3 separate regions of the Homo sapiens genome follow, and regions 1 and 2 are each linked to region 3. Evidence: fine-mapped expression QTL. A gene starts in region 3. Each other region holds a variant in brackets. All regions are shown on one strand. Distances are from middle to middle. Region 1 overlaps FKRP (fukutin related protein). Region 2 overlaps PRKD2 (protein kinase D2). Region 3 holds the start of PRKD2 (protein kinase D2).

Region 1 (4,120 bases), 37 kb before region 3:
ATGCGGGGCAGGGCCAGGGGCGGGTAGGGGAGCGTGTCGGCTGCCACCACCACGGGCTGGGCTGGGTCTTGCTGCAGGAAGGAGTCTACCAGCTCGGGCACCGCGTTGTCAAATGCCTCGAACTCCCGCACCAGGACGGTGACACGGGGGCCGGCAGCAGAGGCACGACGGGGCCCCCGGGCCCGGGAATTCCTAGGCTGGTGCTGCAGCCACGAGACATAGAAGAGGACCAGAAGGTTGAGGGTGATGGCGGCCGCCAGGGCAGCCTGGCAGCGGGTGAGCCGCATGGGGCCGAAGTCTGGGGCTAGCTGGGCCTCCGGGGCATCCTGGGGGAGGGGGACGAAAGGGAAGGCAGCAGCTGATTGTCAGAACCACCCCCTTCTGCCACCCTCAGCCTTGCCCCTTTCTACAGCTCTTTCTCAATTCCCTTTCTTTTCCCTATTTGGTTTCAGCTTTGACTTCCCCTTCTCCAGGAAGCACTCCCTGACCTCCCAGTCTGGGCCATGCACCAACTCTGGGTGTCCTCAGAATTTTTTTTTTTTTTTTTAAACAGAGTGAGTCAAACTAATAGAAACATAAAGTAGAATGACGGGTGCCAGGGGTTGCAGGCAGGGGGGAATGGGGAGTTGTTTGATAAGTACAGAGTTTCAGTTTGGGAAGATGAAAAGGTCCCAGAGGTTTGTTGGCACAACAGTATGAATGCATTTAACACTACTGAACTGTGTGCTGAAAAATGGTTAAGATGGTACATTTAATGTTATATATACTTAATCAGAATTTAAAAAAAATTTTAAGTGGGGTGCTGAAAAATATAAATGAAAAAAAAAGGTTAGGCTGGGCGCGGTGGCTTATGCCTGTAATCCCATCACTTTGAGAGGACAAGGCAGGTGGATTACCTGAGGTCAGGAGTTTGAGACCAGCCTGGCCAACACGGTGAAACCCCATCTCTACTAAAAATACAAAAGTTAGCTGGGTGTGAGGGCGGGTGCCTGTAAGCCCAGCTACTCAGGAGGCTGAGGCAGGAAATCGCTTGAACCTGAGAGATGGAGGTTGCAGTGAGCGGAGATGGCACCATTGCACTCCAGCCTGGGCAACACAGCGAGACTCCGTCTCGAAAAATAAATAAATAAATAAATAAACAAACCAATTTAAAACAAGAAAAACAAAACAAAAGTGGGGTGGGCCAGGTATGGTGACTCACGCCTGTGATCTCAGCAATTTGGGAGGCCAAGGCAAGAGGATCACTTGAACCTGGGAGGTGGAGGTTACAGTGAGCCGAGATGGCACCGTTGCACTCCAGCCTGGGCAACAGAGTGAGACTGTCTCAAAAAATAAATAAATAAATAAATAAATAAATAAATAAAAATTAAAAAAAAAAAAGAAAAAACAAAAGTGGGGTGGGCCAGGTACAGTGACTCACACCTGTGATCCCAGCAATTTGGGAGGCCAAGGCAGGAGGATCACTTGAGTCCAGGAGTTCGAGACCAACCTGAGTAACATAAGGAGACTTCATCTCTACAAAAAATAAAAAATTAGCTGGGTGTGGTGCTACTCACCTATGGTCCCAGCCACTCAGGATGCTGAGGTGGGGGGATGGCTTGAGCCAGTGAGCCATGATCATGCCACTGCACTCAGCCTGGACAAGAGTGAGACCCTGTCTCAAAATACCCAACAACAACAAAAAACTGGGGTAGCTTGCATCAAAAGAGGCTGCCAACCTTAGGACACTCCCCTCCACATTCATTGGCCACACCCTCAAGCACCAGATGGCGCTGTCTCCTTGTCCCCACCG[A/C]GACTGAAGATTTGGCTGGCCGGTCTCCAGCACAGGTGGTATAGCTCTGGGTTCCAAGCAGATGATCAAATAATTTCCCCATGAAGGCTTTTTGTAGGTTTCTGCCCTTCCTAGAGAGAGGGGGCATCCAACTAACCTCCCTATGTCCTAAATCCTCTGTCCCCTCCTCCCCATTTCCACAGCTCCCTCCTCAACCAGGTCCACCCACATTCCCATCCAACCTCCCCCTGGTCTCCTGGCAATTCCTCTCCCCGTGATAGCCAGAGGAGTCTTCCTAAAGCACAAGTTGGACCTCTCCTTCCCCTGCTCTGAACTTGCCATGGCTCCCAGTGCCCAGGGGAGAAAGTGGAAGCTGCTTCTGACATTCCCCTTGTCTGCCCCCCATTCCACCCTCATCTCTTGCCATGCTTTCCCCAACCTGTATGTTTAAGTCACCCTGAACATTTTCTCAAACTGCTCTTATTTCTTTTCTTTTCTTTTTTTTTTTTGAGATGGAGTCTCCCTCTGTTGCCCAGGCTGGAGTGCAGTGGCAGCTATCTCATCTCACTGCAACCTCTGCCTCCCGCGTTCAAGCGATTCTCCTGCCTCAGCCTCCTGAGTAGCTGGGATTACAGGCATGCGCCACCACACCCGGCTAATTTTGTATTTTTAGTAGAGACGGGATGTTGGTCAGGCTGGTCTCGAACTCCTGACCTCAGGTGATCCACCCGCCGTGGCCTCCCAAAGTGCTGGGATTACAGGCGTGAGCCACCGCGCCCAGCCAAAAACAATTTTTTTTTTTTTGAGACGGAGTCTCACTCTGTTGCCAGGCTGGAGTGCGGTGGTGCGACTGGCTCACTGCAACCACCGCCTCCAGGGTTCAAGCGATTCTCTTGCCTCAGCCTCCTGAGTAGCTGGGACTACAGGCGCGTGCCACCATGCCCGGCTAATTTTTGTATTTTTAGTAGAGACGGGTTTTCACCATGTTGGGCAGGATGGTCTCAATCCCTTGACCTCATGATCTGCCTGCCTTGGCCTCCAGAAATGTTGGGATTACAGGAGTGAGCCACCACACCCAGCCAAAATATATATATTTTTTAAACGGACAGCGTCTTGCTCTGCTGCCCAAGCTTGAGTGCAGTGGTGCAATCACGGCTCACTGCAGCCTCGAATTCCTGTGTTCAAGCCATCCTCCTGCCTCAGTCTCCCGAGTAGCTGGGACTACAGGCATGCAATACTGTGCCTGGCTAATTTTTCAAACACATTTTTGTGGAGACTGGCTCCCACTATATTGTCCAGGCTGGTCTCGAACTCCTGACCTCAAGTGATCCTTCCGTCTCGGCCTCCCAAAGTGCCAGGATTACAGGCGTGAGTCACCATGTCCTTTCTAATCTTTAGAATCCTGGAATTGCCTTCTGGACCTTAGATTGATTCTTCCTTCCTTCAATCCTTCAACATCTATTTGTTGAACTCCTACAACATGCCAGGCACTGTTCTAGGCACTGGAGAGAGAGCAACAGATGCTCAGAGACAGACAACATTCCTGCCCTTGTGGAGCTCCCATTAGTGCAGGGGCAGGAACCTTTGCAACCACAGAACCTCAAGCCCTTCAAAATCTTAGAGTTTAGGTACATAGGAGCTCCGAACACACATGAGATGGTTAGTCTGCATATCCTTGAAGGTCACAGCAAGAGACTGTCTTCCCGCTTCTGTTCCTGTGGTCTGTTCCTCATTCAGCACCTCGAGAGATCCTGTCACAACTCACATTTCATCCTGTCCTGGCTCTGCTCAGGCCCTTCTGTGGCTGGCACCTCGCAGGAAAAGCCAAGGTACTCAATGTGGCCCATAAGGCCCCGCGTGATCTTCCATCCTTTCCTACTCACTCACTCAGCTCTAGGAACATTGGCCACCAACACCATCTTTCAAACACACCTGGGACACTCCAGCTGCAGAACTGCCTGTTGCCTCTGTCTGAGTGTTCTTATCCCAGATAGCCACAGGCGATCCACCCCACTGCGCCGGCCCCCACCCCCATCACTCCAATGTCACCTTCCCATAACCTCTTCCTTTGGCCATCCTATTTAAAAATGCATCTTGGTGGGCTGGGCATGGTGGCTCATGCCTGTAATCCCAGCACTTTGGGAGGGCGAGGTGGGCAGATCGCCTGAGGTCAGGAGTTCAAGACCAGCCTGGCCAACATGGTGAAACCCCATCTCTACTAAAAATACAAAAAATTAGCCAGGCGCGGTGGCGGGCGCCTGTAGTCCCAGCTACTCGGGAGGCTGAGGCAGGAGAATGGCGTGAACCCGGGAAGCGGAGCTTGCAGTGAGCCGAGATTGTGCCACTGCA
Region 2 (4,142 bases), 32 kb after region 3:
TTTGTATTTTCAGTAGAGACAGGGTCTCACTGTGTTAACCAGGATGGTCTCGATCTCCTGACCTCGTGATCCACCCGCCTCGGCCTCCCAAAGTGCTGGGATTACAGGTGTGAGCCACCGCGCCTGGCCTATTTTATTTTTTTTTTTGAGACAGGGTCTCATTTTGTCACCCAGGCTGGAGTGCAGTGGTGTAATCATAGTTCACTGCAGCCTCAAACTCCTAGGCTGAAGCAATTCTCCTATCTCAGCCTCCTGAGTTAACTGGAACCACAGGCATGAGCCACCACGTCCAGCTAATTTTTTTTTTTTTTTTTTTTAATGTTTTTGTAGAGACAAGGTCTCGCCATGTTGCCCAGGCTGGTCTTGAACTCCTGGGCTCGAGCGATCCTCCCATCTCAGTCTCCTGAGTTAGCTGGAACCACAGGCATGAGCCATTACACCTGGCTAATTTTTTTTTATGTTTTTGTAGAGACAGGGTCTTGCCATGTTGGGTCTCGAACTCCTGGGCTTAAGTGGTCCTCTTGCTGCAGCCTCCCAAAGTTCTGGGTTACAGGCATGAGCCACTGCGTCCAGCCGGCCATAGAGTGGAACTTTTACGATGTTAAATATCCCCTTGTGTGGTTTCTGTGTTTCACATCCTTCCTAGAAAGGCTTCCTTCTGGTGGGTGCCTTGCCTTCTTCTGAGACATCTCTGTGGGTCTCAGAGCCATCGTTGCTGTGTTCCCTTTACCCTGGCCCAGCACCCTTATCCTCTCAGGCAGTGTGCCTGTGTTTGTCAGGCTGGCTTATGGGGTGGGGACAGAAACCCACTGATGCACCCTCATCCAGACTTTATTATTTATGTATTTTTGAGACAGAGTCTCGCTTTGTTGCCCAGGCTGGAGCGCAGTGACACGATCTCGGCTCACTGCACCCTCTGCCCCCTGGGTTCAGGTGATTCTCCTACCTCAGCCTCCCGAGTAGCTGGGATTATAGGTGTGTGCCACCATGCCTGGCTAATTTTTGTAATTTTAGTAGAGATGGGGTTTCATCATGTTGCCCAGGCCAGTCTCAAACTCCTGACCTCAAGTCATCTGCCTGCCTCAGCCTCCTGAAGTGCTGGGATTACAGGCATGAGCCATCGTGCCCGGCCACATCCAGACTTCAGGTGTGGAAAGGAATCATGGTTCTCACAGGTGGCTGCTTTCAGCAGCTGAGGGGGTTTCTCTTTCTGGCCTTCATCTCTTCCTCTCTTTTTGCCTGCTCGCTCTTCTTTCTCTCTCTCTCTCTCTCTGCAGATTTCTGCTTTCTGGGCTCTTGCCTGCCCCACACCTAAGCCCTGTGCTAAGCCCTTTACCTCCTGAGCTTATGTAGGCCTCACCACCATCCTAGGAGGTAGGTATTGTTATAAACCCCATTTTATAGATGAGGAAACTGAGGCTCAGGGAGATAGCAGTCTCCCTCGAGGTCACAGCCAAGTAGCTTTCCAGCCAAGATTTGAGTCTGGATCTATCTAGCTTCCAACCTGCCCTCTTTCTTTTCTTTTTTTTTTTTTTTTTTTGAGACGAAGTCTCACTCTGTCACCCAGGCTGGAGTGCAATAGTACAGTCTCAGCTCACTGCAACCTCTGCCTCCCAGGTTCAAACAATTGTCCCACCTCAGCCTCCTGAGTAGCTGGGACTACAGGTGCGTCCCAGTACACCGGGCTAATTTTTGTATTTTTAGTAGAGACGGGGTTTCACTATGTTGGCCAGGCTAGTCTTGAACTTCTGA[C/T]CTCGTGATCCACCCGCCTCAGCCTCCCAAAATGCTGGGATTACAGGCGTGAGCCACCATATCCGGCCAATGTTTTTTTTTTTTGAGATGGAGTCTCGCTCTGTTGCCCAGGCTGGAGTGCAGTGGCGCTATCTCAGCTCACTGCAACCTCTGCCTCCCAGGTTCAAATGATTCTCCTGCCTCAGCCTCCTGAGTAGCTGGGAACACAGGCACACGCCACCATTCCTGGCTGATTTTTGTATTTTTAGTAGAGATGGGGTTTCACCATGTCGATCAGGCTGGTCTTGAACTTTTGATCTCGTGATCTGCCCGCCTCAGCCTCCCAAAGTGCTGGGATTACAGGCGTAAGCCACCGTGCCCGGCCTAACCTGCCCTCTTTGTTCACATGAACTGGGAGAAAATCAACTGACAAAATCTGGAAATGGGCGGGGCGAGGTGGCTCACGCCTGTCATCCTAGAACTTTGGGAGGCCAAGGCAGATGGATCACCTGAGGTCAGGAGTTTTGAGACCAGCCTGGCCAACATGGTGAAATCCCATCTTTACTAATAATACAAAAATTAGCCAGGTGTGGTGGCATTCACCTGTAATCCCAGCTACTGGGGAGGCTGAGGCACAAGAATTGCTTGAACCTGGGAGGTGGAATTTGTGGTGAGTCGAGGTCATGCCGTTGCACTCCAGCGTGGGCAACAGAGTGAGACTCCATCTCAAAAAAACAATCTGGAGATGACATATACAACACATGCATCTTTCCAGCTTGGTCTCCCAGTCTGTAGAATGAGGAGGTTGGTCAGGCATGGTGGGTCGTGCCTATTATCTCAAGGTTTGGGTAGCTGAGGTGGGAAGATCATTTGAGGCCAGGAGTTTAAGACCAGCCTGGGCAACATAGCGAGATGCCATCTCTACAAAAAGATTTTTTTAAAAAAGAAAACAATCAGAATAAACACAAGTATTTAAACTCTGAGACAGATACACAAGTATTTAAACTCCGAGACAGATAATAATTGCAGTTGTACAATTGCTTCTGGTGTACTTGGCATTTTGAGTTACAGAGAATCAAGAAATATGATTCTCACAGATGAATGGTTACAAATGGTAATTTTTTTTTTAATCAGCTCACCTTATCATAGGAACAGATACAGCAGGAGAAGCTTTATTTAAGAGACACAAACAAATATATTTACCAACAAGCCATCACAAAAATAATAACTAATAACAACAACAGTAACAGCTAACATACAGTGGTTAGCTATCCTAAGCGTTTTACATGCATCTTTAGATATGCTTTAAACCTTATAGCAACCTGTAAGGTTGGTACTCTTTTTTTTTCTGAGATGGCATCTCACTCTGTCGCCCAGGCTGGAGTGCAATGGCGCGATGTCGACTCACTGCAACCTCCACCTCTCCAGTTCAAGCGATTTTCCTGCCTCAGCCTCCCGAGTAGCTGGGACTACAGGCGCCCACCACCACGCCTAATTTTTGTATTTTTAATAGAGGCAGGGTTTTGCTATGTTGGCCAGGATGGTGTCTAACTCCTGACCTCAGGTGATCCACCTGCCTCAGCCTTCCAAAGTGCTGAGATTACAGGCATGAGTCACCATGCCCAGCCAAAGTTTTTTGTAAGGATGAAAAATATTTTTTTTAAAAATGAAATCAGGCTGGGCACAGTGGCTCACGCCTATAATCCCAGCACTTTGGGAGGCCAAGGTTGGTGGATCACGAGGTCAGGAGTTCAAGACCAGCCTGACCAACATGATGAAACCCCGTCTCTACTAAAAATACAAAAATTAGCCGGGCATGGTGGTGTGTGCCTGTAATCCCAGCTGCTCAGGAGGCTGAGGCAGGAGAATCAGGAGGCCTTCTCAAAAAAAAAAAAAAAAAAGGAATCAAAGCCCGACATGGTGGTGGTGGCACATGCCTGTAGTCCTAGCTATTTGGGAGACTGAGGCTGGAGGATCACTTAACCCCAGGAGTTTGAGGCTGTAGAATGATACTGCACTTCAGCCTGGGTGACAGAGGGAGACTCCATCTCTTCAAAAAAAAAATGGGTGAGGTGGGGTGGCTCACGCCTGTTATCCAAGCACTTTGGGAGGCTGAGGTGGGTGGATCACTTGAGTGCAGGAGTTTGAGACCAGCCTGGGCAACATGGTGAGACACTGTCTCTACAAATACAAAAATTAGTCAGGTGTGATGGTGTGTGCCTATAATCCCAGTTACTAGGGAGGTTGAGGTGGGAGGATGGATTTAGCCTGGGAGGTCGAGGTGCAGTGAGCTGTGATCCCGCCTCTGTGCTCTGGCCTGAGTGACAGAGCAAGACTCTGTCTCAAAAAAAAAAAAAAAAAAAAAATAGAATCACATAGTTGGATCTTGGAAATGCCTGCTCTGTCAGTAG
Region 3 (4,142 bases):
TGTCCTGATGCGTCCCTCCTTTCCCTTCTCAGTGGTCCACGTCTACTGTACTGAGTGCTTTACATGGCATTTCACTGGGTCCACAGCCTTAAAAAGAGGGAGCAGGTGTCCACATGCTCCAGATGAGACGGAGGGGACCGCTGCTCCTGTCTCGAGGAGGCTTCCACCACCTACCAGCCAGGCGTCCTCGGTAATCCTAGCACCTCTGCCACAGGGCACTAATGCCCAGTTCCTGGGTTGTAAAGGGCTGTGCCCCAGTCCCCCAGCAGGCCCCAGTGAACATACGAGAAAGGATGGAGGCCGCTGTCTGGACACTCAGGACATGGCAGCGTTTTGCTGGGACAGTCATCTGCCCTTCAGGAAAAAGGGTGCAGGTGGGCAGGAGGCCCTTAGATGACGCCAAGGGGAGCCTTCGTGGGCTCCACGTGGTGTGCTCCCTGCCCATCCCTCTGGGCTCAATGCAGTTCCCCAGGTGGTGGTTTGGGTTTTCACTCCAGCCTCAGACTTCCTTCCTCAGCCCCAGCCCCCGGATGTGGTGACAGAATCGATACTGTACCGACCTCAGCTACCCCCAACGGCCGTACACCAGGAAGAGGGGCTCTTCTGGCAGCCCCCATCCTCAGCCAGCCCTGCCATTTCCAGTCCTGCCAGCATCCCAGCCAGACAGGTGGCCCTTCTCTTAGAGCTCAAACCTAGGCCTTGACTTGTCAATCAAAGGGGTGGGTGGGGCAGCTTCCCTCAAGCAACTTCACTCTGGGATCTTGGGCAAGACGTTTTGCTTCTCTGAGGCTTCAGCTTATTCTGTGTAAACTAAATGGTAGCCACTATTTGATTATTAGCTGGGGAGGAGAGATCAAGCCTGACCCCTGTAGCGGCTGGAGTTTTACAGCAGGGCCCACCCAGCACCCAGTAGGTCCTCACAGATACTTGCTGGGTGACTGAATGGGTGTGCCCACCCATCAAAGCCTGAGTGCTGGAGGTGGCCACCCCTTTCCGCGTATTATCAGAGACAACCACCTCTTACTGAACTGCTGCGTTTCCAGGCACCAGTATACCATGGCATCGGCTCCCACCATCCCATGTGGGGTCAGTCCTATTACAGTCCCAACAGATGGAGGGACTGAGGCTCACAGAGAAGCCACTCACCCAAAGTCACATGGAGAGAAAGACACGCACACGTACTCCACATCCCCAGGAGACACACTCTGCATCTATGAAGTGGTATGGGTGTGCTGTCCTCCCTCGGGGCAGCCCCACACTATCCTAAGGCGGGGTTGGGGTGGGCGGGGGGATGGACCCTCCCCACCCATCCAGTTAGCGCCATGCACCTTGCCCACCATCGCTGGAGACAGACCTAAGGCGAGCCCCTTCCTACCCATCTGGAGGCCTCGGTCTTTCCATGTGTTAAATGGGCTGGGGCCGGGGGACGCTCTGCAGCACCCCCTTCCCTGGGCTGGGACGCGGCGGGGAGGGCAGGGGTGACGCTCGGAGAACAGAGAGGCCGAACCCAGAGAGCGGGCCGGGACCTGATACCGATTTCCCACCCGTCCCCTGCCATGGGCGCCGGACGCCTGCCGGAGAGGGCTCCCCTCCTTAAAGGGCCAGTGGCCTCCAAGCCCGACGCCTGCGACCGGCGGTGGGTGATAGTGTTTCCCCTCCCTGTCCAGCCGAGGGAAAAGTTAACTTTCCAGGCTTGGCTGTGTTCAGGGAAGGAACTGGTCTCGCCTGCCTGCCCTCCATCCCTCACACCATCCCTTGTCCCGGACCCTGGAGGCGGAGGTCCAGCCCCCAACTCGGAGGCCCCGGGCCCACCCTCCCCTTCCGCCCCCGGCCCCTCGGCAGGCTCCGCCCCTCTCTGACGTCGCCGAGGCCCGCGCCGATTGGTCGACTGCACTGTCGCTCCGGACACTTCCTCCTGGGCCGCCGCCGCCGCCGCCGACTTAAACTTTGGAGGGGGAAAAAGAGCTACTGGCGCCTGGCGACCCTCCCTGCCCCCCACCCAACCCCGCTCCGGCAACGCCCCCTTCCTCACGGCTCCCGACCGAACTTTTCTCCAACTTCTGCGACTCGTGAGATTCCCTTCTACCCACTCCGGCCCTCGGGACCCCTCTGCCCATCCCCTGGCCGGTCGGGTCCCTGCGAACCCCTTTATCTCTGGAATCCACTCGGTCCCCGACTCAGAGACTCCTGCCCTCCACCCCCAAGGTGAATTCCCCCGGGCCGCCTTCTGAGTGGGATCCTCTTCTTGGAGCACTGGATCCTGGGATTCCCTCTGCCCCCTTCTCAATCCCTCCTCTAGGGAAGGGGCCTTTGAATCGCGGGCTCTCCTGATCCCTGTGACCCCGACCTACTAGATTTCCTCTCAGGCTTCTTGGAATCTCAATCGCTGGGACCTCCAACCCACTACTTTTCTCCTTTCTGATCTTCTGGGAGCCCTGGATTCCGGGCCTCTGACCCACTATAGTGCCTTTCTCTCCTTCCCAGGACCCCGCCATCCTCAGGTCCCCTCCGCCTGCCAGATCTTTTCTCGGATCCCCGCTCTCCCACCACCTGCTCACGAGATCCCGCGGATCTAGAACCCAGGGTCCCCCGGGGCCCCCCGGCCGGGTCCCGGGTGGGCTCCAGGCGGCCGGTCCCCGGCCTCCCCCCATGGCCACCGCCCCCTCTTATCCCGCCGGGCTCCCTGGCTCTCCCGGGCCGGGGTCTCCTCCGCCCCCCGGCGGCCTAGAGCTGCAGTCGCCGCCACCGCTACTGCCCCAGATCCCGGCCCCGGGTTCCGGGGTCTCCTTTCACATCCAGATCGGGCTGACCCGCGAGTTCGTGCTGTTGCCCGCCGCCTCCGAGCTGGCTCATGTGAAGCAGCTGGCCTGTTCCATCGTGGACCAGAAGGTGAGGGCGCAGGCTCCCTGGATCCAGCTCGGGGAGAGGTTGAAGGAGGGGGCGCTGGCAGAGGGGTCTGGGGCCTGGTGTGCGGAAGAGGGAGGAAGGAGACCTGAGCTTTGGGTGATGGAGGGATAGGGGGCATTGCCCCCCTCCATTGCCCCTCTCCCCACCATCCCTTTGAGAGAGGACTGGGCAGGGGTGGGGTGCCCCAGAGGCCTCCCCAAATTTCATGTCCCTGCATGTCGTTGTTTTCTGCAGCAAACAGGGAGGAAGGGAGGGGCCAGCCAGGTGTAGAGAGGGGAGGAAGGGGCAGCAGATGTCGGCGGACCTCCACGTCCAGGCCCATCCCGGGCCTCCCATTTGGTGGAAACAGGAGAAATTGAACCCGGGCTGGCCATGGTGATCCGGTGACATGTGTGGGTGCAGGTGCTTGAGTTAGCTGCCAGGGGCAAGTGAGGTCTCGGAGCCCAATTCTGCCCTCCCCTAAGCCTGAGATATGTGTGGAGGGGCAGGCACTCCTACAGACCCTGGGGACTCTATTCCCTTTCCTAGTCACAGTGCTGTTAGCCTACTCTTAATTTTGGACACCAGGGTCCCCAGGGTGGGCAGCTGGGTGTTATGGCAAGAGGAAACCAGGTGGAACTCCACGTCTAAACCGTGAAATGTTAAAAGAATAGTGGGCTTCTGTGTTGGAGTACTGGACTGTAGAAATGTTAGAATATTAGAATCATAACTTGTTGGAATATGCATCCTAGGCAATTAAATTGCCCCCATGTTCGTGTTCAAATATTAGAATTCTAGGTTTGTGAAATAGTAAAACATTAAAATGCTGGAATATTAGATTCCTAGATTGTTGAATCCTAGAAAGTTAAAATGTTAGAATTTTAGAATGCTGGATGGATGAGGTCCTTGAATGCTAAAGAATTCAAAGAGCACAGTCCTAGCTTGTCAGACTCCTAGAATATTAAAATATTAGATTACCGCTTATTTAGGTTATTGAAATCCTAAAATGTATAGTGATACCAGGTAGGAATCTAGAATGTATAATTCTATAATGTGAGCATGTTGGAGTCCCAAAATATCCAAATTCCAGAATCTTTTCAGACTCCTGGAAATGAATCCTTTGGGCATCAGAGAAACGTGGGGAACTGGGCCAGCTCCCCCATTCTACAGACAAGGAAACTGAAGCTTAGAGAAAAACTTCCCAAGGGGTCAGGGCCAAGGCAGTCCTGGTCTTCTGTGGACTCTCTCTTAGCAGT

Evidence for each region. PIP is the estimated chance that this variant, and not a neighbour inherited with it, causes the effect.
Region 1: its variant is fine-mapped to the expression of PRKD2 in unexposed skin (GTEx, PIP above 0.99).
Region 2: its variant is fine-mapped to the expression of PRKD2 in prefrontal cortex (GTEx, PIP above 0.99). The same link has a PIP of 0.9 or more in anterior cingulate cortex, cerebral cortex and nucleus accumbens.

Annotation. Positions count from the first base shown.
Region 1 is chr19:46,751,618-46,755,737 of GRCh38, reverse strand. It overlaps FKRP (fukutin related protein), which reads right to left. Exons shown (of 4, transcript NM_024301.5): 4 at 1-326. The coding sequence starts at 287. Among named protein-coding and RNA genes, the nearest start is that of STRN4, 7.2 kb to the right of the region's middle. The variant A/C (reference allele first, on the strand shown) is at 1,793.
Region 2 is chr19:46,682,657-46,686,798 of GRCh38, reverse strand. All of the region lies in intron 14 of PRKD2 (protein kinase D2), which reads left to right. Among named protein-coding and RNA genes, the nearest start is that of DACT3, 24 kb to the right of the region's middle. The variant C/T (reference allele first, on the strand shown) is at 1,753.
Region 3 is chr19:46,714,878-46,719,019 of GRCh38, reverse strand. It overlaps PRKD2 (protein kinase D2), which reads left to right and starts at 1,906. Exons shown (of 18, transcript NM_016457.5): 1 at 1,906-2,889. The coding sequence starts at 2,650. LOC107987269 reads left to right here. Exons shown (of 4, transcript XM_017027568.2): 1 at 1-374; 2 at 518-667; 3 at 1,044-1,221; 4 at 1,843-2,486. The coding sequence ends at 2,209. RefSeq lists an enhancer at 611-660 and silencers at 1,781-1,940, 1,961-2,010.